Homo sapiens: one gene and its partners. The protein of the gene in region 1 interacts with the protein of each later gene in a pairwise test. Each region holds a gene or a part of one and is shown in the gene's direction. Other genes may lie near its edges. The genes, in order: FEZ2, SAP30L, SMC3 and WWC1.

Region 1 (7,782 bases):
TTAGGGCCTTCTGAATCATGATGGACGTAGTAAATCCAATTCTATTTAGGTTTGTGTTTAGTATATTGTAATTTTTTCTTGATAAACCATGTTCACTCCTACAGTAAAAATTTTGATTATTTGGAGCATCCACACCTGAACACCATTGGTTAATGGAGAATTCAGTGCATTTCTGCTCTGGGTGCCTTAGGTGAGCACTGTGTTCCAGATAGATCATTTTCCTTTTGTATATTTGATTAACAGTGGTGTGTGTGTTTTCGAAGGTTATTGAAGAAATTGAAGAAATGATGCAGGAATCACCGGACCCAGAAGATGATGAAACCCCTACACAGTCAGATCGGCTTTCAATGCTTTCCCAGGAAATTCAAACTCTCAAGAGGTCTAGTACCGGCAGTTATGAAGAGAGTAAGGGAGCCTGCTGAAATCAATGATTTCTGTGCTTTTTGTCTGTATCAAATGTATAGTATGATCATCTCCAGAAAGCTTTGATTTCATCCTCCTTCTGTTTGTGTTTGTGTCCAAATTTACATTTTTGTTGTTGTTGTTGAGACGGGATTTCACTTTTTGGCCCAAGCTGGAATGAAGTGGCATGATTTCAGCTCACTGCAACCTGTGCCTCCCGGGTTCAAGCAATTCTGCCTCAGCCTCCCAAGTAGCTAGGATTACAGGTGCCCGCCACCACGCCTGGCTAATTTTTACATTTTTAGTAGAGACGGGGTTTCGTCATGTTGGCCAGGCTGGTCTCGAACTCCTGACCTCATGATCCGCCCGCCTTAGCCTCCCAAAGTGCTGCAGTTACAGGCGTGAGCCACCATTGCCTGGCCCCAAATTTCCTCTTACAAGGACAGCAATCATATTGGATTAGGGTCTATCCTAATGACCTTATTTTAATGTAATTACCTCTTTAAAGACCATATACTGTAACATTCTGAGGTACTTGGGGTTAGGACTTCAACACATGAATTTTGGGGAGGACACAATTGAGTCTATAAGAAACCCCATCATATTTGAAGTGTAGAATAGATATTCAGTAATTATTTGTCAAATGCAATTCCTGTTTGTACAAATAGTCTTGTGTGTTACTATGAAGAATTTTGGGAACCATGGATCTGTTTGACATATGTGAGAATAATGAACTCTAGAAACTCTACAGTTGATTTTCATGAAAAATGTCTGAATAAATATAACCAGCCTGTGAACAGCCTGAGGCTGGTTGGAAGGTGTGTATCTAATCATTGCCATATGACTGGTCCCTTCCTTGAATAGGCACTGATGGGGTCTGTATCTGCTCAACTCGTGTTGTCACCTAGTTTTATCTTTATGGCATGCCCAGTCCAAAGCTTAGTTACCTAAAGACCTTTGGGTTGTATGGCTTCAACATACAGATGGTCAGACAGACCAAATTCTTTCAGATGGTCTGATTTGGCCATGTTCCTGTAGGTATGGGCTAAACAGTGTTAACGTCCTGACTCCCAAATACAGTCCTGATACCTGATACAGATACTAAAATCTGTATTGGTTTGCTAGGGCTGCCAGAACAAAGTACCACAGAGTGGGTGGCTTAAACAACAGGAATTTATATTCTATAGTTCTGGAGGCCAGAAGTCTGAGATGAAGGTGTTGGCAGGTTTGGTTTTTTTCAGAGGCCTCTCTCCTTGACATGCAGATGGCTGCCTTTTCCCTATGTCTTCACGTGGTCTTCCTACTGTGTCCTGATCACCCTATTTTATAAGAATACCAGTCATGTTGGGTTAGGGCCTATCCTGATGCCCTCATTTAACCTTAATTTACCTCTTTAAAGACCCCCTCTCCACATTCTGAGGCCCTGTGGGTTGGGACTTTAACAGTGTCCTATCTGTCACAAGGGGCAGAAGTGCTGAGAAAAGACTGAAATGGGGTTTCAGGGAATATTGTTCCCTTTTGTCTTCCCAGTTTTTTTAGTCCATTCTTGCACTGCTATAAAATGCCTGAAACTGGGTAATTTATACGAAAAGAGGTTTAATTGGCTAATGGTTCCACAGGCTATACAGGAAGCCTGGTAGCATCTGCTTCTGGGGGGGCCTCAGGGAGCTTTTACTCATGGTGGGAGGCAGAGCTGGAGCAGGTATCTTCACATGGCTGGAGCAGGAGGAAGGGGGCTGGGGGGAGTGCCACACACTTTTAAACAACCAGGTCTCATAAGAACTCTGTCATGAGAACAGCACCAGGGGGATGGTACTAAACTGTTAGAAATTGCCCTCATGATCCAGTGACCTCCCACCAAGCCCCACCTCCAGCATCACATTTCTGTATGAGATTTGGGTGGGGACACAGATACAAACCATATCACCAATTTCAACAAAATTCACAGATCAGGACTTATGTAATTAAGTGTATATTTAGTTTAATTCTTTCAGATCAACTCCTTTCCTGTTCAGAGATATCCCAGAACCCTGCTGAACGGCTTGCAGTTTTTTGTCAGCAGGTGGATTCTGTACTTTCCCTCGACTTTTGTGTTTGTTCTTTTCCGTGTACAAGCCTTCACAGTCTTGACTGAAGTATTATTCATGCAATGATTTATTTGCACAAGTAAAAACTTTTGTTAGACTTTCTTGCCAGCAAGCTGAGAAGTGACTCACCTGCCCACTTACCTCTACTCAGATCTGATCTCCAGAAGTTGTAGAATTCTGAGAAGATCACCCACAGTCAATTTAATTGCTTGGAATATGATTTTTGCTCTTTGGCATTGATTACATAGGTGTTTATTTAGTCATTCCTAGTGACTACTCTGTTTTGCTTCCTTGAAATGTTTTTGTCTTAATATCTGCTGTATTTTGCTTTTGGTCACAGGAGTGAAAAGGCTCTCAGTGTCTGAGTTAAATGAAATCCTGGAAGAAATTGAGACTGCCATTAAGGAGTACTCTGAGGAGCTGGTGCAGCAGTTGGCTTTACGAGATGAACTGGAGTTTGAAAAGGAAGTGAAAAACAGCTTTATTTCTGTTCTTATTGAAGTGCAAAACAAACAGAAAGAGCACAAAGAAACAGCAAAAAAGAAAAAGAAACTAAAAAATGGCAGCTCTCAGAATGGGAAGAATGAGAGAAGTCATATGCCCGGCACAGTAAGTGATGTTTTGCAGGAGGCGTCGAACACTGGAAACAGGTTCTGTGGTAGTCCCAGCCTTTGGGGCTGGTGGCAGGTGCGACAGGTTGTACATGGGCAGGAGTGTTAACACTTCTAATCAGAGCCCAGTGGGATTTTATTCCAGAATACCGCTGTGCTCAGCTTCTTCAGAAAGTCGTTTTCTTGACTAGGGTGTACTGGTTATCTGAATAATACTGAAATGTTTAGCAAGGATGTAAGTGGAAGGAAGAGGGGGCAAAAAAGGAGAATGTCTTGAAGAAAAGAAGCTTTAGCAAGTGAACATTTTTACCACATCAAAATGTGAAGAGTGGTTATGTATATTTGGCTAGTAGTTTTTTTCTTATTTTTGCTGAACTCTTACGAGTTGTGTGATAAGAAATTAGAAGGGGTTTATTTAGAGGTATCAGAACTCTGCTCAAGGCACAAATTGTTTGTAAACAGGTTCCTCCTGATTTTTCAGTGAGGTTGGAATACAAGAAGGTAAGTGACATCAGCCATGTGGCCTAGTATTTGGCAGACTAGACTATTTCTGACTGGTGAAAACAAGTTTAGAACATCTGAAACGCTGACCCTTTGATAAGATTTTTTTGTGTTGAAGTCTTGTGTATTCCCACCTTGATTTTGTTTGTGTGTGAAGAAATGTTGGTTTTATTTTTAGAGTATGATGGTTGGGTAAAGGGATCTCTTTTTCTAAATGGGACATCTCTTTTTAATTTGTGATATCAATAACATGGTCTTACAAATCACAAACTAGCTATTATGGCTTGCAATAATATGAGTTCTGTTTTTGATAAAGTCTGATTTACTTATCTAAAGAATACTTAGCAGAGAAATAGATCTCATTAAGCAGATGCTGATGGAATCCTGGAAATACAGTTCTAGGATGGTGGGCCACCAATGAGCAGTTAACACAAAAAGAGTCTTACCATATAGCTCATTTATTATGCTGTAATTAGCCTATGAATAAATCCATTTTTTTCAGTGTAATGTTCATTTGTATCTATTTTGAAAGGACATCGTGGCTGGGCACGGTGGCTCGCGCCTGTAATCCCAGCACTTTGGGAGGCCGAGGTGGGCTGATCACCTGAGGTCAGGAGTTCGAGACCAGCCTCAACATGGAGAAACCCCGTCTCTACTAAAAATATAAAATTAGCCGGGTGTGGTGCTGCATGCCTGTAATTCCAGCTACTCTGGAGGCTGAGGCAGGAGAATTGCTTGAACCCAGGAGGCGGAGATTGCGGTGAGCCAAGATCGTGCCATTGCCCTCCAGCCTGGGCAACAAAAGCGAAACTCCATCTCAAAAAAAAAAAAAGGACATTGCTTATGCACTGACTTTGAAAAAAGTTCTCAGGTATCTATTATTTTTAAGAAATGGCAGTATTGATTGAATAGGTGTTTATTTAGTTATTCCTAGTGAGTACTCTGAAAAAAACCCAAAACCAACCCACATTTGTTTGAATATACAATCCTAGAAAATTTGCTTTAAAATATTAGGGACACTATTTTGCATTTGCATCTCATATTTTTAGAACTGGCACCCTTTAAATTGCCCTGTTATGCAAGTGAGATTAAATAAAATGCTTAGTTAAAAAGTCATAGCATGGTTGGTAATTTCTGCCTATTTGCTTTTAGGGATTACATGTAAATCCTCCATTTATTGCTGTTAACACTTGGCTGAGAAAAGTAAATTTATCCCTAGAGGGGTTTAAAGGCTTCGTTTTGTAACTCCCATGTAAAAAGGGTTAGAGTAAATCTATTGTGTAATTTTACATGGCATTTATATTGAGAAATGGATTTGGCAAGGCAACAGTTAGGTCTTACTTCAGCCTTCATTGGTCTTGAAATAGATTCATAGTAACAGTAAATATTTTTCATAATATTTGAACTTTTGAAGTTGCATTTTGCCTGATTTACAATTTGTGTCAAAAATTTTAATCAGTTCAGTAATGGCACGGCTAAGCTTGCAGTACTAGTTTCCTGTATCCTTTTAAAGCCTAAAATGCGGCCGGGCGCGGTGGCTCACGCCTGTAATCCCAGCACTTTGGGAGGCCAAGGTGGGCGGATCACCTGACGTCAGGAGTTCAAGACCAGCCTGGCCAACATGGTGAAACTCCGTTTCTACTAAAAAATACAAAAATTAGTTGGGCGTGGTGGCGCATGCCTGTAATCCCAGCTACTCGGGAGGCTGAGGCATGAGAATCGCTTGAACCCAGGAGGCGGAGGTTGCAGCGAGCCAAGATTGCTCCACTGTACTCCAGCCCGGGCAACAGAACGAGGCTCTGTCTCAAAAAAAAAAAATAAAAAGCCTAAAATGCCAGGGAAAGACCTTCCTATCTGTGACACAAGTAGGCTGGAAGGGTGATTCTGAAAATAGTGGTAGGTTGCTCAAAAGAAACCCAAAGTGAAATAGGCAGTTGGATAAACAGATTCCAGGAGCTTGCCAAACATTTTACCAAGCATTTTATATCACATGCAGTCTTGGCAAGACCTGGTCTCTATGAGTTTGCTATTATCAGTGATACTAATTCCTAAAAAATGGTGACCTCCTTAGAATTGTCATATGTTACCTGTTTTTCCAATAACATAAGTCACTTTTTTTTTTCTCCTGCCTGAGATATTTTTGTTTTATTAGCAGGACTTGAAGTTTTTCGTTAAGTATAGAATAGCTTCCATTTTTCTTCATGTATGTTTCACTGAAGCAGTACATCAATTTGTAGTTGGCATACCACTTAATCTAAAATTGTTACCTTGTTCTCTTTGGTCCAAAGATACTCTAATGAAATATTGGAGTGGGTATAGAGCAGAGTTAAACTTGGAGACAGATTTTGTTTTAAATATTTGTTGTGGTGAAAAAAAAAATAGAGGGCATAGGGATGCTATTTAGAGCATTGGAAAATTTCATTAGACCATGAAAATATGTGAAATGTTACAGAAAGTATTATCTTATAAAAGTGAAATATGATTTTGATTGGAGTTTTAGGTTTAAAATAACCATAATGCTGTATGTTGGGTAAGATGAAACAATATTCATTCATTCAGCAAGGATTTGTGGAGTGCTTTCCTGTGGCAGGTGTTCTTCAAGATACAGTGGGCAGGATGACTCATGATGGTAATTCTAGGACTTTGAGAGGCTGAGGTGGGAGGATTCCTTGAGCCCAGGAGTTTGAGGCCAGACTGGGCAATATAGTGAGACCTTGTCTTTACAAAATAAAAATTATAAAATTAGCCAGGTGTGGTGGCATGCACCTGTAGTCCCAACTACTTGGGAGTCTGAGGCGAGAGGATTGCTTGAGCCCAGGAGGTTGAGGCTGCAGTGGGCCATGGTCACACCACTCCACTTACAGCCCGACCTTGTCTCAAACAAAAAACAGAAAAACCACAGTGGTGAATAGAATAGAATAGATGAGGCCCATCCCATGCCTTCCTGGAGCTTATAGTCTAATGACGGAGAAAGGCAATAAACAAGGAAAAAATGAATAGATGATGGAATTTTAGTAGTAAATAAAGGCCATGAAGAAAACCAAAGGCTGGGTGAGGTGGTAGATGGTGATGCTGTTGGGAAGCTGTTTTGGAGAGTGTCACTACACCACTGCTTCTCCTCATTGACAAGGGAGCCTGCCTAGTCCCTTTCCAATTCTCCGTTTGAAGAGGAGGTTAAAGGAGTGGACCTCTTTGGGAAGTGCAACTCAAGAGAGTGGCAGGCTTTATATTTCCTCTGTCCTTTTTTGCAGCATCTGGAGGAGCAGAGGATGGGGGGTTAGAGAGTGGTTAAAGGGCACTGTCTGTTTATCACTATGGTGACCTACATGTATTTCTTTGTGCTGACCATGCTGTTTTGGGTGACACTTCTTTATATTCAATGCTCTTCTTCTGGAATCAAATTCCTTACCTGCTGCTTCTGTCCACTTGGGGGATTTTTTTTTTTTCTCACTCATCCTTTAAAATCATGGCCAAGCATTGTCTTCCTTTCTTAGAACCTTCCTTGATGACTCTGTCCGATGCAGAGTTGACTACTCTCTCTTTTTAGAGGGGTTAGTGTTACTCCTCTTTAGTATTTCTATTATCACTGTTGTATCATACTGCAATTTTTTGTTTTCATGCCTATCTCTGTTTTATGTCCCTAATGATAAGAAATTTAACTTTACTTTCTCGGTATTCGTAGATCCAACCTTAGGTACCTAATAAATTTCTGCTGAATGAATGAGTGAACGAAAGATAAACTTGCAAATATATATTTCTATATTGGATCTTTCTGCCAGGTGTCAAACCCATGGACAGTGAATATTGTCTAAGACAATAGAATATTGACTAAGAGCTTTGGGTTAAGAGCTGTGTTTGAATCTTCGTCCTACATACAGACGGCTTTGAATTTTGGAGAGATTAAATGAAATAATGTATATAAGATTAGCAAACATAGCAAACACCATGAGTAAATGCTAATTGTTATATATGTCCAACTGCCTACTAGACAATTCCCTTTGGATATCTTGTAGGAGTCTGAAATTTATACTATTAAACCAAAGTTACCATTTTCCTAAAATTGAATTATTTTCTTTTGGTTAGCAAAACTAGTTTATCCACTCACTGAAACTGATAGAATTTCCAAGTCAAAGAATATAGAGTTTTAAATGGCTTTAAATGACCAGCTTTTCAAATTATTG
Region 2 (6,339 bases), on another chromosome or scaffold:
AGTTCTCCACTGTGTTGCCTAGGCTGGTCTCGAACTCCTGGCCTCAACTAATCCTCCCACCTTAACCTCCCAAAGCATTGGGATTATAGGTGTGAGCCACCACGCCTGCCCCACAATTTTTTAAAGACACATTTCTTCCCACTTTCAAGGCCTGAGAGGTTTGGTAGCAGCTGGCCAACCAGAGCAGTCCCAGTCTCTCCTCCATGAGTATGACTGTGAAATCATGCCATGACAGGTGGTTGGCTGCCACTGAAATAGAACTGCACCTTGGAAGAGTTGTAGGTTAAAAAGCCACTTTTGGATCCTGGAAATTAAACCACCTACATCCCTGGGGAGGAAGGGCAAAGGGCACTCTGAGTTCCGCACATGGCAGGAAGTTCTTCAGCATTTGTCATTCCCGCCACAGCATGCAAACAACTCCATTCGCTTCTTTGTACAATGTAGAATTTGCGGTGTGATTTGTGCATGGTTTAAGGAACTTTGGTATTTTCCCCCCACATAGACTGTGAGTCGACACTTCAGGAACATACCTGTGAATGAAAAAGAGACCCTTGCCTACTTCATCTACATGGTGAAGAGTAACAAGAGTAGACTGGACCAGAAATCGGAGGGTGGCAAGCAGCTTGAGTGAGGATGAAGCACATCTTAAAGGAATGAAGTGTAATGCTTGATGCACAGGTGATATCTACTACATTTAAGCCCATAAAGACTGTTAAATATTATTGTAAATAAAAAAGTTTGAATGATGAATACTGTAAATCTTTTTGGTCAGGAGGATTATATTCTCATGATTCAGCATGTGTATAGAAAGACTTTCTTTTACGATAACTCTGGACTAAAAAAATCAGGATCATTAAAAGAATTAAAAACTATGTATTTCAGCATTCAACAAAGCATTAAATCAATTCTACTGGAAATGTGGGATAAGAAATATTTTGGTAATCACCTTATCCACCAGGCTGCCACGTGTGAGCTGTAGCTTGGAATAGCAGCAAGGTGCAATTGGCCATGGAAGTGCATGAGCAGACCCACATCTGGACTTGCATGCTGCCCGCTGGCGACATAGATATCCCGCCCGCTTTGTTGCAAGCTTTGTCATTTATCAGCAGATCAGTTTGACACTGGTCCCCCTCACTCACCCTGTGCCTTGTACACAGTAGGCACTCAATCAGTAGGTATTGGCTAATTGAGCTGTCACTAATAGTGCCAGCCTTGTAACATCCGCTTCACACCTCTCATGACTGAGACCTCTGCCATTTCTGTTGCTCACCACTTAACTGCTAGAATGTGGAGGAAATCCTGATGCACCAACAAGGAAGTTTCTGATCAGATAAGGATTTCAGGACAGTTGCATGTGCAAAACTATTCGTTGAGGTTCCAGAAACACTGATATAGAGACCCTCACAGAAGATACGGTCCCTTATGCACCCCACTATGCTTCACTCTTTGGGGTGCAGTTAGATATTATGACTTCAGCCAAGCTTCTTGGTAATAAATGCATTGACACACTGACATATTTAGTAGGTTGGGGCAAGTATTTTTAGAAGTTTTCATCCTAAGTTCACAACCACCATGCAAGCTGCCAGGGGCCATGTGATTCCTGCCCAGAAGTTCAGCTTAGGATTGAAAGTCTGGCTGGCCTTGACTCCCTGGGCTCTGGTCATCAGCAAATCATGAGTTTGGGCAACAAAGGTCAATTCCATCTGATGCTCATTTTTGTGAACAATTTGCCTCCCTCTTAGGGAGAAAGATTGCTAAAATAATTTTTGAAAATTACCTAATTTTTTTGTTGTTCAAAACGTTGAACTCCTCAATCTAATTATATCAGAGCCAAAGTATCCTGTGAAAACAAAGCTTTATATCCAAAAATGTGCTTTTGCAAAATTCTTTAATCTGTGTAATGGAGGGCAGAGGGTATGGGGTAGGAGGGTGGGAGAAAGAAAAGAAAAGAATTTGGATTCTAATTTATGACCATCTTGACATATGGTCAAAGGTGTCATTTTCCTACTCAGTTTCAATTCTGAGTTAATTTCTTAAGCCTTAAATAATAAGAACAATGGACAGCCTGGCCTGGCAGAGAGTTTCACAGATGACTTAATCTGAGCACCATCACAGAGAAGTCAGGACTAAACCCCCTACTGAGCAGGGCGGCGGAGTGTCCAAAGGTCTCAGTTCTGTGGAGCAGAGTACCACGCTTTCTGTGGAATGGGGACAGGGTCACCACGCTCACTAAAATGCAGTATGTTCCATTGCAGCAAAGCTTTCGCCTGTGTTCAAAATGCATGTCTAGCAGATTGCAGCCTTTTAAATTAAATATATATAAATGGTTGTATATAGAATATACTCTGGACTGTGAGGGCATCCTATTTTGGTATGCCTCCTGGCTGTGGATGGCATGTCCAGTGCTCTGTGAGTGTTTTCAGTCATTCACATTCACTATGTGTTTAGAGATTCTCTCCCTGCTTACAGCTGAAGGATGTTGATACAGGCATCAAGAAGGCTGAGGGGCAGATGGGGCCTGCAGGTTAAGGCATTGTTAACTTGCTCCATGGAAATGTCCATATCTTAATGAGTAAAAAAGTGTATTTTTCTGATACGTAAACCAGAATTGTGGGCGTGTAGGTCACATCACTATTTCTTTAGCAGCAAATCTGTTTTCCCAGTTGAGAGAGACAATAGCTTCTGCACAAGAATATATGATGGTAGGATCCATCTGTTCAATTGTGTCTGAAAGAATCTTTATTCCAAAGCGAAACCTGGGGAAATGTTTTACCTTCAGCCAGATGCTGTGTGTGTACTTGGGTCCCTTGTCTTTCCTCTAAGGAGAGGTGCTTGTGGAAAGTGGAGGTTGTGGGCATCTTTTCAACCTTTTCAATCTGACCTTTCAACAGGTCAGGTGAGAGAAAAGACAAAGCTATTTGAACCTATGTTTTTCTTATGTCCAGAAATCTGTTCTTTCATCAAACCACTAAACCACTCGCCTTAGCCTCTTCTGCAGTTTCTGGTGGCTCTATCTGTGGGCAAGGGACTCCTGCCTGTGAGAAGTGGCCAGGCCCTCCAGAGCAACGGGGTCTGGCTTCAGGGAGCAGTGGGGTGTGGGGAAAGCAATGTTCATCTTGGCTGCTCCATTTTTATACCATCCATCAAGGACTCTTGCGCTTCTCTCCACCTGTGACGTAGCAGCATTGCCTTCTTTCCTCTTGGTGCTTCTGGGCAAAACTGGAATTTGAAATCCAGAACTGGCGTTGTCTTCTTAAAGAGTATGGTTCCTGCCTCAGTTCCAGCCTGGTATGGTTCTTTGATATGCCCTGAAGGTTCTCACATGGAAACATCAGTATCCTGCCATTCATGTTGTTTTAAGATGTTTTAAAAACCAATGGACAAACTTCTTGCTTCAAGGAACAAACTCTTAGGTTGGCAACAGCATATAAAAAAAAAGATCACAGCTGAATCTCATGAAAGATTAAAAACCAAAGGATTCAAGACCGGTGTTGTAAAATGAAGAGGAATTTTACTTACATGTTACAGCTGCCAAGTTTTTAGATGTTCCTGTCATAGCTAAATAGTCACTGCTAGCCTTTCAGAGAACAGATAGTAACAATTGTTTGCAGCTGCAGTGTTGCATCTAATTTTGGTGTTTAGGCTTTTTATTTTGTGGGAAGCTTTTTGTTAATATCCTGCAGGGCAACTGCCTGTTGGGAGGGAGAGGATGGAAGAAGGAGCTTACTCTGGGGGCCTTGCCTATTGAGGGAGGCTGTTGCCCAGAGCAGTTGCTTCATGGAAGTCATCCAAAGGCGCTCTCAGTCATTACAATGACAGGATCTCAAAGTTGGGAAAGGGCTGTTAAGTCATCCAGTCTAGTCTCCACATAGGTGCTGACATTCTGCCTACAACCATCCCACCAAGGGGTTGAGCAGTCTGGACTTAAACACCTCCGAGGACAGAGAACCCACTACCTCGTGGAGAAGCCTGTTCTTTGTAAACCTCTGGCTTTTCTATGTTCTCTGTAATTTCCATCTTAGTCTCTGCCCCATGGGGGCCACATGGGACAAGTTATTTTTGGCAAAGCACCTAATTGCTGGCACTGTCCCAAAGCATAGCGTTTGCCTTTTGGAAAGAAACAATGCTAGGACATGGACACTTTGGTACACTGTCCTTACCCCTGAGTATTAGTCCACTCAGTTCCTTGTTGGAGAATGTTGAGAAAACCCTACTGGCTGGCTTGTTTCTGCCAAAGCTTGGGGAGAGGAGAGGGGGATGAGAAGATGTTAGCAGCCTGCTAAACCTCAGACAGATGAGGACTCAGTTCTGTGCTTGCCCCACAAAAACGGATGCTCACATCATCAGGAAATTGTTCAGCTGGAGGATTTATAACTTCGTTGCTTTGCATGAAGTTTAAAGTTTTCATGGTTGCCCAGGGCTTGTACCTTAGATTCCTGTAAGGACTTTGCACTGTTTTTGCTGAGAAAACAACGCTTCAGGACTTAAGGTCTAAGCGTCAGAGAAGTGCCGTATTTTCAAGGTGGAAAGTCTGTTAAGCTTGCTGTTGTCCAATCATCCGTTTTTAGAGATGGGGAAACTAAAACTCAAAAAGATGTGCCTGAGGTCATATGGCATTATCAGAACCAACCTCTGGCCCTCTTGACCTGTCTAGCATTCTTTCTTTCTGACCTATAGGATGACTCTAATTCAGTCTAAATCGGCTGCCCTCAGATTCTTGAGAACTTAAAATTGAGCAGAAATTCCCAAGGCCAACCTAGCTCTCAGGGACCAACCTGCAGAACTCAAGATTGAGCGAAATGTTTAGGCCAGTTGAGTTTTGCAAAATGAGTGGTAAGGGAAAACAGATCTAGCCTGTTATTTAAAACCAGGGTTCAAAAGCCCTATTGGGAGAGGTAGTATTGTCCTAGCATTTAAATTCTCATGAAATGTGCTTGGTCTGTGATCTCTTGGTCAGATATCTGCCTTCCAGGCGATCCTTTGAGGTTGTGTAATTCAGCTGGCCCTGGCTCCTGGTCCCTGTTACTGAGCTGGGCAGTCGAACCGAAGGGCAGATGAGCTCAAGATCATGCCTTGGGAAGCATGGTGCTCTAGGGGTGCCTTTTTATTCCTTTCATTGTATTATAGACTGTTTCCAAGTTTATGGTTAGAAATGGTAAAGTGGGTCTGGTGTTTTGAGGTAGAACCCAGCCTAGGGCAAGATATGAACTGTTCTTGAGGTAGAAATGTCTACAGTCAGTTGTTTCATCTAGCTTGCATCTTAAAACACAAACCCTTCAGTTGCTTTCACTTAATGCACACATTTGCCAATGACAGAGGGTTATACAGGATCCTTCTTTTACATTTCTATTGTCTGCTACGCTCATCAGAGTATATTTTGGGGTACAAGGTTTTGGGGGTTTTTTTTCCCATTTTGTAACTGCCTTATTGAAAAGTAAGTGCCCTTCCATTCCAGGCCTCCTCATATTGTACTTGTTTCCTGCCAAATCTGGGGGATCATTTGTATTTTAACTTCGTAATCTATGGCTCTGTACTGTTGAAAGGCTCTCAATTCTGTGGGGTCTCCTTAGTATGTATGTGACTTTTCATGTTGCAATATCACACGATGGGATGGCCCGACTTTTGCTCTTAATAAATAATCTGAATGAGTAAGAGACCCTCTGTCTTCCCTTTGAATTTTTATATAGAATTCAGATGCTTTCACTTCCACATTTGGCCCCTGGCAGTGTATTACAGTGATTAATGACAGTGGTCTTTCCTCCCAGCTCCAAATACTAGCACCTACATCCCCAGTGCACACTGAGTTTAGATCCCAGAAGGTTAGGCCCAAGTTCCAGTACTGCTATCCCATTCACTCACCTGGAAAGAGACTGACTGGGTCCAACAGCCTGAGTCTGGAGCTCAACTTCCATGTAGTGTACTGGATGCACTGGGCAAATAGAGTTCTCTCTCTGGGTCTTCAGTTCTCCATCTAAATAAACTGTATGGAGGATTGATTGCACATTGAAATATCTGCAGAGGGTGAGCTGCAAACTGGAAAACTCAGGTCCCTTCTAAGGGCAGCCACTACTCAGCTCCCCGCTACTGTAGCCTTATGGGCACACCAGCCCTGTGTGACCGGGTCTTGCAATTTGACTGGAGAAGCTGGAAATTCAGATCTTCATGTAAACATCCCAATGTTTAAATGTCTCAAAGACATTTTTAACAGCGTGTGACCTGGAGTTTCTTCACCTACAGTAGAGTCTTGCTATTTAAAGTTGGTCCATCATCTGGGCACTTGTTGGAAATGCAGAATCTCCCAGCCCCTCCTGCTGGCCGTCTACTGAATCAGAATCTGCA
Region 3 (7,782 bases), on another chromosome or scaffold:
AAGCGATTTTCCTGTCTCAGCCTCCTGAGTAGCTGGGACTACAGACATACGCCACCACATCCGGCTAATTTTGTGTTTTTAGTAGACATGGGGTTTCACCATGTTGTCCAGGCTTGTCTCAAACTCCTGACCTCAGATGATCCACCTGCCTTGCCCTCCCGAAGTGCTGGGATTACAAGTGTGAGCCACTGTGCCCAGGCTAGACCCATACTTTTGGATATCTACATCTATTTTACCATTCTTAAACCCATGGATACCCAAAGTCTCCTATTGTTGGCACGTTCAAACTTTCCACCTTCATTGAACAAATAGGCATTTGAAGCTGTGACATAAGAGTACTGTCTGATGGTCAGTTTTTGTCAGTAACCATTTTTATCTGAAGCACAATGGAATTAGTTGAATATTTGATTCCGTTTTGTCCAGATTGTATTAAAATTAGAAAGCAAACTTATAAGTGATAGTGTGTTATTGGTCTCATAAACTTGACAGTTTTGACAAATCTTTTACTTAGTATAATACTAAAACTACAAAGAGCTTAAAAAAAAAAAAAAAGATGTGCCTACAGTTGTACCATCCCAACCATATTCTGACAACTTTTTATTTTTTGAGGGGGATGGAGTCTCGCCCTATCGCCCAGGCTGGAGTGCAATGGCGTGATCTCGGCTTACTGCAACCTCCACTTCCTGGGTTCAAGCAATTCTCCTGCCTCGGCCTCCAGAGTAGCTGGGATTGCAGGCGTGTGCCTCCACACCCAGCTAATTTTTGTATTTTCAGTATAGACGGGTTTCACCATGTTGGCCAGGCTCGTCTCGAACTCCTGACCTCGTGATCCACCCACCTTGGCCTCCCAAAGTGCTGGGGTTACAGGCGTGAGCCACTGCGCCCGGCAACTTTTTGTTCTTATAATATGCCTGAAGATTTTTGTATAGTTTAATCATGGAATATGATCTGCCCCACCCTGCCCCACCTATACTATTACATCATATTTTTCTTGTTGCTAGAGTCCTAATTACCAAATTAATAGGCACCTAATATTTGAGTTGATATGTCTATATATTTAGCTCAATCAAATATAGATTGTTTTAAAATTTTCACTATAAGTAATACAGTGGCTAATACCTTACTAATAAATGGATAATGTCATATAGCAACGTAGCTTACAGAGTTTGGAGGCAAGCTTGCATGCTATGGAGTCTACCAGAGAGTCATTGAAAGCAGAACTGGGAACTGATTTGCTTTCTCAACTGAGTTTGGAAGATCAGAAGAGAGTAGATGCACTGAATGATGAGATTCGTCAACTTCAGCAGGTAAGTAGACAGCTGACTGGAAAAAGAATTCGTTAGTAATTGGCTATTGTGAAAAGGGCCTTTCTTGCTAACTAGGGCAATATGAAAGAAAAGAACTGAGAAAATATTAAAATGAGGCTTGGACTTTTAATATACATAGGAGTAAATAAGATTTTGTTTTTCTAAACCAATCTAGCTAGGTTAGGATTATACAAGAAATTTTCATTTCCTTAAAATTTAGTTAATTAGCATTACTTATTAGTTGTAAGTATTGCTATGAGTTTGAGCTTGTTAGCCTTACCATATTTATCTTACTGCCTTTACATATTTAATGTTTTGATCAAGCATTTTAATTGATTTTTAAAACTGCATAGATGTAAACTACCAACACCGATTCTAAAAAATGAAAAGCATTTAAAGAAACTGTTTTTGACAGCATGCGTTATAAAAAGGGCCAGCCACAAAAATTTAACATTATGAATTGATAAGAGAAAAATGAAGAAAGTATAGGGCTTTTTTGAAGAATATAACATATTAAACTTCATTTCAGCTCACATGAGCACAAGTACTAGAGAGGACAGCAAATGAGCACCATTCCTGTGTGTGAAATGTACATGCTTATATAGACAACTTTTTCTTAATTCTAGGAAAACAGACAGTTGCTAAATGAAAGAATTAAATTAGAAGGTATTATTACTCGAGTAGAGACTTATCTCAATGAGAATCTGAGAAAACGCTTGGACCAAGTAGAACAGGTGTGTATGTGTTTTTTTTTTTTTTTTTAAGGGCTCCTTGGTGGCCATGACCTATTGCAAGTGGTTATATCAGAGGCTCTGATTGAAAGCATGGGCTTTGGGGACAGAAAGCTTAGTGTCTTGTGGGCCTTGGGTTGGAATTCTGCCACCTAGTGTGTGATTTTGGACAAGTCACTATTTCTAAGCCTCAGTTTCTTGTGTGAATTAAGCATTATCATACTTGTTTTATATAATTGCTATCCTGACACATTCTAAGTACTTTGTTAATATTTTTTCAGTGGTGGTTAGATGCTTAGAAATTTTCTAGTAATTGTGTCTTTTTTTTCTTCCCTTTAATGGATACTTCTAAGTATTTGTAATTATATGATGTATTTATATTTTTTTGTTTTCTTGAATGTTTATTCAGACAATAGCCATAGAAAATGTTGGCAGTCATAACATTTGAAACTAATGGAATTTGTATTTTTTGTTACAGGAACTTAATGAGCTGAGAGAGACAGAAGGGGGTACTGTTCTCACAGCCACAACATCAGAACTTGAAGCCATCAATAAAAGAGTAAAAGACACTATGGCACGATCAGAAGGTGAATTTTTATGTAGTAAAATTTTGTTTATATGCATGTTTTATAAAATTGTTTACTACAGAATGAAATGTCCAAATAGGCAGAAGCATATGCTAATGATTTTTTGTTTTCCATTATAAACAATGTATAGCAAATGGAATTTAGGAAGTTGACTATAAATAGTAACTTTTGTTTTACTGAAATGTTTATGACAATTTTGAGACCATAAATGATTCATTTTGTTGATAAAATATGAAATACCTGACGAAAGTTTCTCATCACTTAGTTGTTAGAAAATAACTATAGTTTATAAGCATTAACATTGAATAATGAAAATTATATATTTGAGTGACTCATATATACTTCTAATTTTGTACTGACTTAACATGGTTCATAAATTTTCACAGAAAATTTTAAACACAAAACCTAAAACCTATTTTGGTAGGTTTGATCATAAAAATCTATACTCAACATATAACACTGGCTTTATAGGTATTATAGCCTAATTTTGTTTCCCCCCATCTTAGATTTGGACAATTCCATTGATAAAACAGAAGCTGGAATTAAGGAGCTTCAGAAGAGTATGGAGCGCTGGAAAAATATGGAAAAAGAACATATGGATGCTATAAATCATGATACTAAAGAACTGGAAAAGATGACAAATCGGCAAGGCATGCTATTGAAGAAGAAAGAAGAGTGTATGAAGAAAATTCGAGAACTTGGATCACTTCCCCAGGAAGCATTTGAAAAGTACCAGACACTGAGCCTCAAACAGGTTGGTTTTAAATTTGAAGTCTTGTTACAAATTGCTCAGTATATAAATTTATTTATATGAATACATATTTTCTCTTTATAGTTGTTTCGAAAACTTGAGCAGTGCAACACAGAATTAAAGAAGTACAGCCATGTTAACAAAAAGGCTTTGGATCAGTTTGTAAATTTCTCCGAGCAGAAAGAAAAGTTAATAAAGCGTCAAGAAGAGTTAGATAGGGGTTACAAATCAATCATGGAACTGATGAATGTACTTGAACTTCGGAAATATGAAGCTATTCAGTTAACTTTCAAACAGGTATGTTTCGCTTTGTAGTTAAAACATACACACAGAGGACAAAAGCTTCCAGCTCTTTTCAGTTTGTAAAGATTTTAAAGCTGTTTTCCTCATTACCAGGTGAATCTAATACATGTGAACAAACCTAGCATATAGGTTTACAGTAACTTGAATGTTTTACACAGCCCTTAGAAGGATCTAGTCTGTTATCCTTGTTCTTAAGATTAAAAAATAATTGGTTGCTTTTAAATATTTTACTTAAGTGTTATATATAATTCTAAGCAAAATTTATATTTCAATCTGCTTTTGTTTTAAGGTATCTAAGAACTTCAGTGAAGTATTCCAGAAGTTAGTACCTGGTGGCAAAGCTACTTTGGTGATGAAGAAAGGAGATGTGGAGGGCAGTCAGTCTCAAGATGAAGGAGAAGGGAGTGGTGAGAGTGAGAGGGGTTCTGGCTCACAAAGCAGTGTCCCATCAGTTGACCAGTTTACTGGAGTTGGAATTAGGGTAAAATACCTTTATATTCCATTTTCCTCAGAGCATTACCATAATAGAATTTATAGTATCTTTTGCAAATCTGATTGGTGCATTATATGCAAGTTACTTTTGAAAGATGGTGGTGATTCTGCCCTTTAGGATATTAACTCATAATATGTTTATTTTTAGGTGTCATTTACAGGAAAACAAGGTGAAATGAGAGAAATGCAACAGCTTTCAGGTGGACAGAAATCCTTGGTAGCCCTTGCTCTGATTTTTGCCATTCAGAAATGTGACCCGGCTCCATTTTACTTGTTTGATGAAATTGACCAGGCTCTGGATGCTCAGCACAGAAAGGCTGTGTCAGGTACAGTTTCAGTACAGTTTTGGTTTTGTATTTAACAATAAGCTGGTAATATTTGCTGATGTATATATGAAAAAATCAAACTCAGGCAGTTTTGAATTTTAGTAAGAGTAAAGATAGTTGCTTTTTAAATTTTCAGATCTGCTGAAAAGAAATTTGTTAAAGCACAATTTTCTTTTTACAGATATGATTATGGAACTTGCTGTACATGCTCAGTTTATTACAACTACTTTTAGGCCTGAACTGCTTGAGTCAGCTGACAAATTCTATGGTGTAAAGTTCAGAAATAAGGTAATTTTATTTTACATTGAGTTTAAGTTTGTATTTATTCAATTATATTTGTTGAATTCTGATTTTATGTTACTTAAATAGTGAAAGAAAACTTAGAAAGTCTTTGCTTATCTGATGTCTTTGTAAAGAAAGAACTTTTCCTTCAAATAACTATGAAGTTTAGCAGTATTTTATGGCGTTGCATTGGTTTTATTTTCATTGGCATTAATAAACAATATCTTTCTGTCCAGTCTATTCAATGCTTCTGTAATGCACAGTCTTTAACAATTATATATGTTCATTTGTATAGACTGCATAGCTCTTCCTGGGTGTCTTCCCAACCTTAAAATTCTTGATGAAATAGCAAAGTAATAGAAAGTGAACAAAAAGGTAGTTTAGATGTTTAGGCATGATATTTATTTCTTCAGAGCATTAAAATACATATTTTTTAAATCTATGCATTGAACAAACACCACTGTAAATAAAGGTTTTATAAGTCAGTGCTTCAGAATTATTTTCCTTCATATGTAAAATATAGGTGATAGGCCGGGCGCAATGGCTCATGCCTGTAATCCCAGCACTTTGGGAGGCCAAGGCAGGTAGATAACCAGGTCAGGAGTTTGAGACCAACGTGGCCAGTATGGTGAAACCCCCGTCTCTACTAAAAATACAAAAATTAGCTGGGCATGCTGGCGTGCACCTGTCGTCCCAGCTACTTGGGAGTCTGAGGCAGAATAATTGCTTGAACCTGGGAGGCGGAGGTAGCAGTGAGCCAAGATGGTGCCACTGCACTCCAGCCTGGGCAACAGAGCAAGACTCCATCTCAAAAAAAAAAAAAAAAAAAAAAACTAAAAATTAAAAAATGTAGTTAAATGTAGTTGATAGGCTGTATATATTTACCCTATACAATGTAAACACTGATGTAATTAACAGATTTTTGTTTTTAACATTTATTCTTCAGGTTAGTCATATTGATGTGATCACAGCAGAGATGGCCAAAGACTTTGTAGAAGATGATACCACACATGGTTAATTGGAAAATACTACCTACTGGTTTGGGAGATGTATATAGTAATATGATTCTCATACCCAGGAACTGTAAATTTAAACCTAAATATTTGGCCAATAGTTTTCAGACTTAAAGCATCATAGTCCTTTTATATTTGTCTTTGTATTTTATAAGATACTCTGTAATGTCATGTTTGTACTGATAGTTTAAGAATTTAATTTCCTGTACAACTTTTTGTAAAATGTTCTGCTCCTATTTTAAATGTTTTGAAACATGCTAAATATTCTTTCCTAATTATTTTATCACTTATACTACCTTTTTTATAGCTTCAATTAAATAATCGGTTTTATGACTAATATAGTGTTTTATGTGGCTTTTCATTTGTCATAGTCTCTTCCAGTGAGAACACTAATCAGATTGGATGTAAGGCCTCATTTTAACTTAATCACCTCTTTAAAAGACCTGTCTCCAAATACAGTTAAATTTGAGGTATTGAGGGTTAGGACTTCAACATGTGAGTTTGGGAAGGGAAGCACAAAATCAGCCCCTACCATGGTATATTTATCATTGATACATTACTATCAACTAAGCTCAAGATTTTATTCAGATTTGACTAGTTTTTCCACTAAGGCCCTTTTTCTTTTCTAGGATCCCACAGAGGATACATTACATTTACTTACATCTCCTCTAGTCTGTGACAATTTCTCTGTCATTGTTTATCATATCTTGACAATTTTGAATAATATTCACATATTTTGTAGAATGTCCCTCAAATTAGGTTTGTCTAATATTTTTCTCATGGTTAGATTGGAGCTAATACCACAGAAGCGAAGTATTCTCATTACCTCATATAATAGTACATATTATTAACATGTTTTATCACTGATGTTTACCTTGATCACCTACCCAACATTGTACTTGCCAGGTTTCTTTGTTGTGAAGTTACATTTTTTTCCCTTTCCATACTACTCTTTTCTTTGAAAGTAGGTCTTTAAGCACTGGGGGTCTCCTGTGACCCTGGAAAACTACCTCAATAGTCCTCGTAGCTTTTTGTAGATTCTTTGAGATTTTCTACATAGACAGTCATGTCATTTGCAAGAAAGAGGCAGTTTTATTTCTTCCTTTTCAAATATTTACCTTTAATTTCTTTTTCTTGATTTCCCCTGGCCTGAGTTTATACTGGTTATCTGCAGGAGAATTTGTTAGGAGCTACTCTTCCATCATTGGAAACCAGAAATACCTAAAGAGATACTTTTAAAATAAAGAAATAGTAATGGGACTTTAAATTGAATTTAAAAATGTGAGTTTACTTTGGGTTTTCATTTTGACTGGCTGAATCTTTAAATGTTCGGTGTATTATTTATACTTTGTAGCTTTGCTATAACATAACTGATCTATAATAGAGAATTTGGTATATGTTCTATCTATGACTACATTCAAAGGGTTACGTAACTATAATATCTTTCTAATATTTCTACCATTTTTCTTACACATTTACCCAAGAATTTTTCTCAAACAACTACCTAAGAATATTCATCATGAATGCTTGGTGTATAGTTTACGATTTGTAGAGTTGCTCTGATATGACCAACCCCTTATAATACAGAATTTGGTGTAAGGTAAGTTCCAGGATTCAATTCAAGGGATGTTACAAACATAACATCATTCTAGAACTTCTTAATATTGTTCTTAAGCATTTCCCCAAGGATATTAGTATAATGAAATGCCAGTAAATTTATAACAATAAAGCATCTAAATAATGAAACAAAATTTTTGTAAAAGCCTATATTCTTTGCGATATCTTAGTCATGAATTAATTCTAATGAGACTGAATAGAAAAATGTGACAATCCTGAGCATGCTTAACCCAGAAACTTAGAGGAAGGACAGACATTTACCCAAGGAGTTAGCCAGTGATTCATAAGAAAATCTATGCTTCTCTTTGGCTGGATAGTCCTTTCCTCAGAGTAGTACTGATTCTTCCACTTTGAGATTTTGTTAATACTGTTA
Region 4 (7,782 bases), on another chromosome or scaffold:
GGCACTTAGGTGAGCAGCTCACCTTCTTCATCTTGTGTCATTGGTTTTTTTGTTTGCTTTTGGTTTTTTTGTTTATTTGTTTTTGTTTTTTGGAGACAGAGTCTCGCTCTGTCGCCCAGGCTGGAGTCCAGTGGTGCGATCTTGGCTCACTGCAAGTCTGCCTCCTGGGTTCAAGCGATTCTCCTGCCTCAACCTCCCGAGTAGCTGGGACTACAGGTGCACGCCACCACATCCAGCCAATTTTTTGTATTTTAGTAGAGATGGGGTTTCACTGTGTTGCCCAGGCTAGTCTTGAACTCCTGAGCTCAGGCAATCCGCCCACCTCAGCCTCCCAAAGTGCTAGGATTACAGGCGTGAGCCACCACGCTTGGCCTTGGGTCACTGGTTTATAAACTTCATCTCTGTACCTCCTTGTCATCCCACCTGGACTGGGGTGGTATTGGGCCCCTGAACTTGGGGTCCTGAGGGGGTCTCATGTCAACTCTGGGGGTCACTATTGTGGTCCAGCTTTGTATGTTTTGGAAAAGTGCTAATTGGAGGATAGCCACTTGTGGTTTTCTGGAATTTCCCTCCGGCATACCCCATTTTTGCCTTTTAGTTCTGTCTGTGTGGCCTTGGGCAAATCACTTGACCTCTCTGAGGTTTGAGTGCTTGAGAAGTGGGTTGGTTAGATGGTCTTCAAGGGCCTGCCAGCTCTTAAATATTATTTCAAACCCTTCTGCCGCTCTTACCTCTCCAGACTCCATGAGAGGAGAAGGGGGAACAGGGATGGGCTATGAGAAAAAGGAAGAAGAAATTTAACAAAGCTGAAAAGAGCCAAACTTATTCCGGGGGGTGGTGGGTTGGGGAGAAAAAATTCTGCCAAGGTAGTTATATCCCTGCAATTAATTAATGCTGTGAGACAAAAAATTGCACTAAAAATTTCTACTCCGTGTGTGTGTGTGTGTGTGTGTGTGTGTGTGTGTGTTTATTTGCCTTGGATTTTTCCTTACCTGAATCATGGAGATGCCCACCCATTCCCCTGAATTTAAAAGAAGTAAGTCAAATGGTCCTTCAGTCAGAAAAGTGATTTCTTAGCCACCAAGGACAAAATAGCGTCTCTGGTTACCAACCCTAAAGAATGTCTTGGCACATTCCTCCCTCTGGGGCTGAGCTGTTTTGTGTGCTGGCCGGCCAGGAGCTGCTGGGGGTAGGGAATCCAGTTTTCAGCTTCCCCTTTCACCAGGGGGTTGGAAGAGCAGCCAAGCAGCCAGCCTTGCCAACTCTCTCCCCTTCTCACCCAGGGGAAGACTGGGAGGCCGAAATTCCTGAGGATGGTTGTCCCAACAACCGGAGAGGGTCCAGTGGGCAGCTTGGGTCCTGCCCACTGGGCCAAAGGCTCCAGCAGCACCACAGGCTTTTCCTGAGTCAAGGCCAGCCTGGGAAGGTGACAGGCCCTTCGGGAATCAGGTGCTGTGGATCAGGTCTGAACAGCACCTTGGAGCCGTGCTCCTTTTGCGGAGTAACTCTGGGTGCTTTTGTGAGCTCTAGCGAAGGGGCCAGCGTCCTGTGTATTTCACTTCGTGGTATGCAAAACAAATGCACCGATTGTTCTCGGAGGAAGAATAGATCTTTGGGGCTGGCCCTCCCAGAGAAGGTTCCTGCAGCCTGATTCCTTCTTGTTGTGCGATTTGTATTCAGACCTTCTCATAGGAACCACCTGGGAATTCTGGGCAGTTTCTGGGTCTGTATGGTAAGTACCGGAGGCACACATGGCTGGAGAGGCCATGCTGAGAGGATCCAGCAACTTCTCCCATGACTTGAGGATCTTTTGCTAACCCTGTTATTTCAGAAATAATTGATATGGTAGGAAGTCAGGTCTACAGCAGTCAAAAAGTCTAAACCTCTGTCAGGTCACAGACCCTTATGAGACTGATAAAGGTTCAGAACTCTTCCTAGAGAAAAGGTTTTTGCACATAATTTCAGGGACCTCCTGGACCCCAGGTTCATAACCCCTGCCATAGATAAGCTTGGAAATTGCTTGTCACCATGGAAAGGCCTCCTGTTTAGCTAGGTAGCAAATAATGATTGGGTATTTACTATATTCAGGCAGTCTGCTGAGAGCTTTACATAGGTTATCTCTTTAAATCCTCCTAACAACCCTGGGACTAGGTACAATTATTACCCACCTGAACTACCCAATGCTCAGGGAGGCTTGGTAAAGCCCCTCAACCTTTGTGGAGCTGTGATGTGAATACTAGGCGGGCTCACACCAGAACACACATTTCTAACCACTGCCTCATTTTACTTCCTGCTGAGTTAGCTGCAGAATCAAGACCACTGCTCCAGTGCCTAAGGAATTTGGCCTTGGGAAATGGAGCCAAAACAGGCATGATTTCACTTACCTGTGACCATTCTGGTGTGGTCAGGTCATGGGCACCTAGAGGGCAAATGTAGATAAGTGAGTCTTTGGCTCCTGGAATCTTGGATCTGCCACTTGCTACCTGAGTTACCTTGGTAATTGACATATTGTCCCTGAACCTTGCGTTTGCCTTCTAATGAATGGAAAGATGTCCATCAACCATCAAGGGTAGTTATGGGTGATAAGTAAGTGAAGGTAGGTAGGGCAGCAAGCCTGAAGTCTGACATGCAGGGGACACTGAGGAATGCCAGTTCCTTTAACTTTTCCTAGAACGTACCTGTGAAACAGCAGCATCAAATGGATGCTGCATATCTACCCAATTTTGCAGCTGGAGTGGACCTTTCTGTTCGTGAAATCCAGGCCTCTCATTTCACTGATGAAATTGAGAACCAGCCTGGTGCGGTGGCTCATGCCTATAATCCCAGCACTTTGGGAGGCTGAGGCGGGCAGATCACCTGAGGTCAGGAGTTCGAGACCAGCCTGACCAATATGGAGAAACCCCATCTCTACTAAAAGTACAAAATTAGCCAGGCATGGCGGTGCATGCCTGTAATCCCGGCTACTCGGGAGGCTGAGGCAGGAGAATCGCTTGAATCCGGGAGGTGGAGGTTGTGGTGAGCCAAGATCGCGCCATTGCACTCCATCCTGGGCAACAAGAGCGAAACTCCATCTCAAAAAAAAAAAAAAAAAAAAAGAAATTGAGAACCAGAGACAAGTGACTTGCCCAAGGTCACACAGAAAATAAATGCCAACCTCGAGTCTAGTAAAAGTTTCTTTTTTCTCTTTCTCTTATATAAATTTTTTACTAAAAGTCAGATCTATGTCCTTCTCATCAATGATAATAATTCACACATATTTTATGTGCATGGCTGCATTATTCTCCATAATCGTTTTTGATTGTATAGACCAGGAAGTTGCATTCATCGTGCGTCACAATCATTTGTGAGTTGTGTCATAGGAATTTGCTGTATGTCAAATGATTACATTTCCAGTGATTGCAAGTGAATTCCTATTTTTATAATCAATTAAAATGGATTTAGAGTTATTGTCAGTCTAATGTCATATTCCAACAAGCTTTGTTTTATTTTATTTTATTTTATTTTGAGACTGAGTCTTGCTCAGTCACCCAGGTTGGAGTGCGGTGGTGCAATCTCAGCTCATTGCAACCTCTACTTCCCGGGTTCAAGCAATTCTCGTGCCTCAGCCTCCCGAGTAGCTGGGATTACAGGTGCATGCCACCTCACCCAGCTAATTTTTGTATTTTTAGTAGAGACAGGGATTCACCATGTTGGCCAGGCTGGTCTCGAACTCCTGACCTCAAGTTATCCGCCTGCCTCAGCCTCCCAAAGTGTTAGGATTACAGGTGTGAGCCACTGTGCCCCACCCAACAAGGTTTCTTAAGTGAGAGTTATAACCAGTCTGCCAGGGAAGTTACCCAGAACCTCTTTATTCTCCATGCTGCTGCTCTTAATGATCCACTAATACCTGTAGATGTATAATAATAATACTTACATACAAGTGATTAGAGGGCTTTTTATCTTTTTCTGAGGCTTGAGTTTAAGATCTACGTATTCCATGGGAGTCTACCATGCCTGGGAACATCCTATGTCAATTATTAAGAAAGAAATGAGGTTTAAAAACACTAGGATAGATAATAGGGAGAAGCAAGAGATTTGGTAACCCAGAGAAGAATAAAATAATAGTCAATACCAGCATCTATTGAGTGTTTACTCTCTGCTGCCCACTGAGCTAAGCATTCTATTTTGTGACCTCATTTTATCTTTTCAACAGCCATATGGGGTAAGTACTTCAGATGAGGGAACTGAAATTTAGAAAGGTTAAGTAACCGGCCGGGCGCAGTGGCTCACTCCTGTAATTTCAGCACTTTGGGAGGTCGAGGTGGGTGGATCACCTGAGGTCAGGAGTTCAAGACCAGCCTGGCCAACATGGTGAAACCACGTCTCTACTAAAAATGCAAAATATTAGCCAGGTGTGGTGGCACGCACCTGTAATCCCAGCTACTCAGGAGGCTGAGACAGGAGAATCGCTTGAACCCAGGAGGCGGAGGTTGCAGTGAGCTGAGATCGCGCCTCTGCACTCTAGCCTGGGCAACAAGGGCGAAACGCCATCTCAAAAAAAAAGGTTTAGTAACTTGCTCAAGATCACCAACAGGTGTTGCATCCAGGACTGGAGCCCACCTAGCTGGATTCTTGCATCTACACTCATACTAGCTGTAGCCTGGTCTGGCTCTGTCCTGGCTTATTAATCCATCTCAGGGCCCCAGAGTGCCCTGTTGACAGCTGGGCTTGAGAGTTACCATTTATTCTTAAAATGGGTGAACCTGATGTGGATCTCAGGGAGAGACTTTGCTAAGGAGCCTTAACCAGAGAAGCCAGTGAGATCCTCATGGCAGCTTAGGAGACTGTTTGGCATAAACTCCACCTTCTGGGAGCAGCTGGCTAACCAGAGCTTTGGGGATGGGAGAAGAGAGAGAGATGGAGGCAGAGGGACTCTTTGAAGGATGCAGTGTGTACAAGGAGTTCACAGTCCTTTCCAAGTCGCTTGGGTAAATGCTCCCAACAGCCAGGGAATGAGTAGCCAAGGCCGTTCCTCTCTGTCGCCATCCCTCCCCCTCCCGGGGAGAGGGCTTATCCAAACTGACCCAATTTTCCAATTCCCTGGGGTCCCAGATTGCTGTGAGAAGAACACTGCCCTTTTGAAGGGAAGAGAATCAGGTTGCCTTAGTTACCTGGAAGGTTGGCACGCCAAGTTCAGGTGCACGTAAGGAGAAACAGGGCTAGAATAAGTGTGAGTCGAAGGTGGCCACCGTCTTGCTGCACGGTTCCCTCAGTGGCAGAAGCCTTGATCAGGCTTCAGTGGCACTTGCAGGGAATGCCGACCTAATGTCAGGTGGCTGTCCATGACGTGTATCAGGAGCTCTCTCCAGCCACATGTGGTGCTAGGTGATGAGGCTCTGCAGCCTCCAGTTCAGCAAGGGGCCCTGGATAAGAGGAATCCACTTCACTTGGAGAAGTGGCCTGGTGACATCCCTATCACCAGCTCCTCGCTATTTGCTAAGGGAAGCACCTCCACTTGGACAGGGCTGAGGGCTAGATCTGGGCAAAAAACTCCCGTCTTGCCTCTCCCAGCATGGAGATGGCCAGCTGGCTGCACACCTTTAGGTAGAACAGCAAAGGTTCAGTTGCTGCTGCCTCGAATCCGTTTCAGAGTGAGATAAAGAAAGAGAAAACTAAGAAACTGGATACAGTGACATTTTGTTATTAGACCTTCCCCAGCAGGCCATTTAGCCTTTAGTTCCTGAGCAGAAAAATAATAATGGGGTGGCGGGAGGAGGGGGCAGGCGTTCACTGTTGTGTGCGGAGAATATTCTCTAAAGATGCAGGATGGGGAAGAGGGGGTGGAGCAGAGAGTGGGGAGGAGGGAAAGAAAAAGGACAAGTGTGGTGGGTCACATGCCCATTCTCCCCACCCCCCACCCCTTGCCAGTTGCCTGCTCAATGCTTCTACCCATGACATCTCACTGTTGGGAAGAAATGAGATCTTTCAGTTTCAAATGTCTGCCAAAGAAAAGGGACGGAGGCTTAAGTTCTCACTCAATGGTCAGCCAGAAAAAAAAAAAAAAATGAAGCTGCATCAAGATTAGGGACACCTTTGTTGGCTTTTTTTTTCTTCTCTTGCTCCATTCATCACTCTCTGGCAGCGAGGACACCAGGCCAACTGCAGCTGCTGACTTTCCCCAGTCGGCTGCCTGCTGTTGCCCAGGCCTGTTTTGGTAGCAACCCCCACACTGGCTTCCTCCCCGCCCAGTGGTGGTTACTTGTTGGATTCGTCCCTGGGGTAGCCCCTGGGATCCACTGACGGGTAACAGACTTGGAAGGATAAAATGTCAAGATGCAGGCATCAGGTGGCTGCTAGGATGAGATGACCCTGGGACAGCCTTCCAGTCCTACATCTGTCGTGGCTTTTCTTGGAGAGTCGGGCTGTGAGCATTTCACTGTATTCCAGGAATTTCTTCTAAGTGCATTGTTTGTCTTTGTATCACTAACAGTGAGAACAATAACTGGCACCTGGTGATAATGGTGATAAATAATCATGATTGTCTTTAAAGATCCTTATCCATTGTCTGTCACGTGCCAAACACTATTGCTCATCATATTTTTATGGCATTTTGCAAATGAGGAAACTGAGGCCGAGAGACAAGTCAAGTGACAAGCTCATTTTTCCACTATGGAAAAAAATGTGTATGTGTTTGTTGTTCCACCCAAACATGGGATTGCATACCACACGATTCACGATTCCCTGTAGTAGATAAGCTCTCCATAAAGATCATTAGAGGACACTGAGTCAAGTCTGGCTTTGTCACTTTAAAATAGTAAGTGGGACTGGGTGCAGTGGCTGACACCTGTAATTCCAGCACTTTGGGAGGCCAAGGTGGGTGGATCACCTGAGGTCAGAAGTTCAAGACCACCCTGGTCAACATGGTGAAACACCATCTCTACTAAATATACAAAAAAATTAGCCAGGCGTGGTAGCAGGCGCCTGTAATCCCAGCTACTCGGGAGGCTGAGGCAGGAGAGTCGCTTGAACCTGGGAGACGGAGGTTGCAGTGAGTCGAGATTGTGCTATTGCACTCCAGCCTGGGCAACAAGAGCAAAACTTCGTCTCAAAAAAAAAAAAAAAAAGTAAGTGACCTTGAACCAGTTCCTTCTCAGCTATAAAACAAGGATAAGAATAGAACCTACCTACCCCTGAGAGTCATGGTGAGGATATGACATCCAACATAGAAAGTCTTAGCGCCTATCATGCCTTCATATGGGAGCCCTTTCCAGTTAGGCCAACCTACCCTCCTGTGCATTGGTAACGGTAGAGGAACTAAAACCCCTGTTTCTTCCTTGCCAACTCAGGTCTCTTCCTGGCGGGCCATGGCTCACCTGAGCCACACTGACATTAGAGCTCGCAAACCACCTTGGCAGCACTCATTATATGAATCAGTAAACTCCCCTCCTCCCCCAGTCTTATCAGGGGCAAGCCCTTCTTTGGAATTTCTGGAGTGAAGCGACTCTTGCCAGTGAGCTGGCACCAGGGCTGTGTGTGAATCAGGGTAATGAATTGCAGTTGTCATGGCAGAGCTAAAAAGGCTGATGCAGGAACTGGAGGTCTCTGGAACTCATTTGTAACTGCTTTGATATCATGTCCCCTCACTCAGTCTTCCCTTTTGCGCTGTTTGAGAGCTGTTTGAGGACCTGCTGATTTGAGCATGGTGGTGTTGCAGGAAGGGCATTGGCATTTATCACGTCCCACCCAGCGGGGGGTTGGCCATTCACTCAGCAGGTATTTATGGAGTGCCTACTGTGCTCAGAC

Evidence for each region.
Region 2: the proteins of FEZ2 (region 1) and SAP30L interact in a two-hybrid assay, tested with the Homo sapiens proteins (one study listed by BioGRID).
Region 3: the proteins of FEZ2 (region 1) and SMC3 interact in a two-hybrid assay, tested with the Homo sapiens proteins (one study listed by BioGRID).
Region 4: the proteins of FEZ2 (region 1) and WWC1 interact in a two-hybrid assay, tested with the Homo sapiens proteins (one study listed by BioGRID).

What each region holds. Positions count from the first base shown.
Region 1 is NC_000002.12:36,573,913-36,581,694, reverse strand, and holds part of FEZ2 (fasciculation and elongation protein zeta-2), read left to right. Parts: intron 1-263; coding exon 264-405; intron 406-2,829; coding exon 2,830-3,098; intron 3,099-7,782. UniProt on the Homo sapiens protein: Involved in axonal outgrowth and fasciculation.
Region 2 is NC_000005.10:154,455,398-154,461,736, forward strand, and holds the end of SAP30L (histone deacetylase complex subunit SAP30L), read left to right. Parts: intron 1-502; coding exon 503-631; 3' UTR 632-5,656; downstream 5,657-6,339.
Region 3 is NC_000010.11:110,598,506-110,606,287, forward strand, and holds the end of SMC3 (structural maintenance of chromosomes protein 3), read left to right. Parts: intron 1-1,148; coding exon 1,149-1,307; intron 1,308-1,933; coding exon 1,934-2,041; intron 2,042-2,516; coding exon 2,517-2,625; intron 2,626-3,131; coding exon 3,132-3,379; intron 3,380-3,460; coding exon 3,461-3,673; intron 3,674-3,968; coding exon 3,969-4,160; intron 4,161-4,319; coding exon 4,320-4,497; intron 4,498-4,678; coding exon 4,679-4,785; intron 4,786-5,725; coding exon 5,726-5,797; 3' UTR 5,798-7,543; downstream 7,544-7,782. UniProt on the Homo sapiens protein: Central component of cohesin, a complex required for chromosome cohesion during the cell cycle. The cohesin complex may form a large proteinaceous ring within which sister chromatids can be trapped.
Region 4 is NC_000005.10:168,294,553-168,302,334, forward strand, and holds part of WWC1 (protein KIBRA), read left to right. Parts: exon of another isoform or gene 1-1,732; intron 1,733-7,782. UniProt on the Homo sapiens protein: Regulator of the Hippo signaling pathway, also known as the Salvador-Warts-Hippo (SWH) pathway.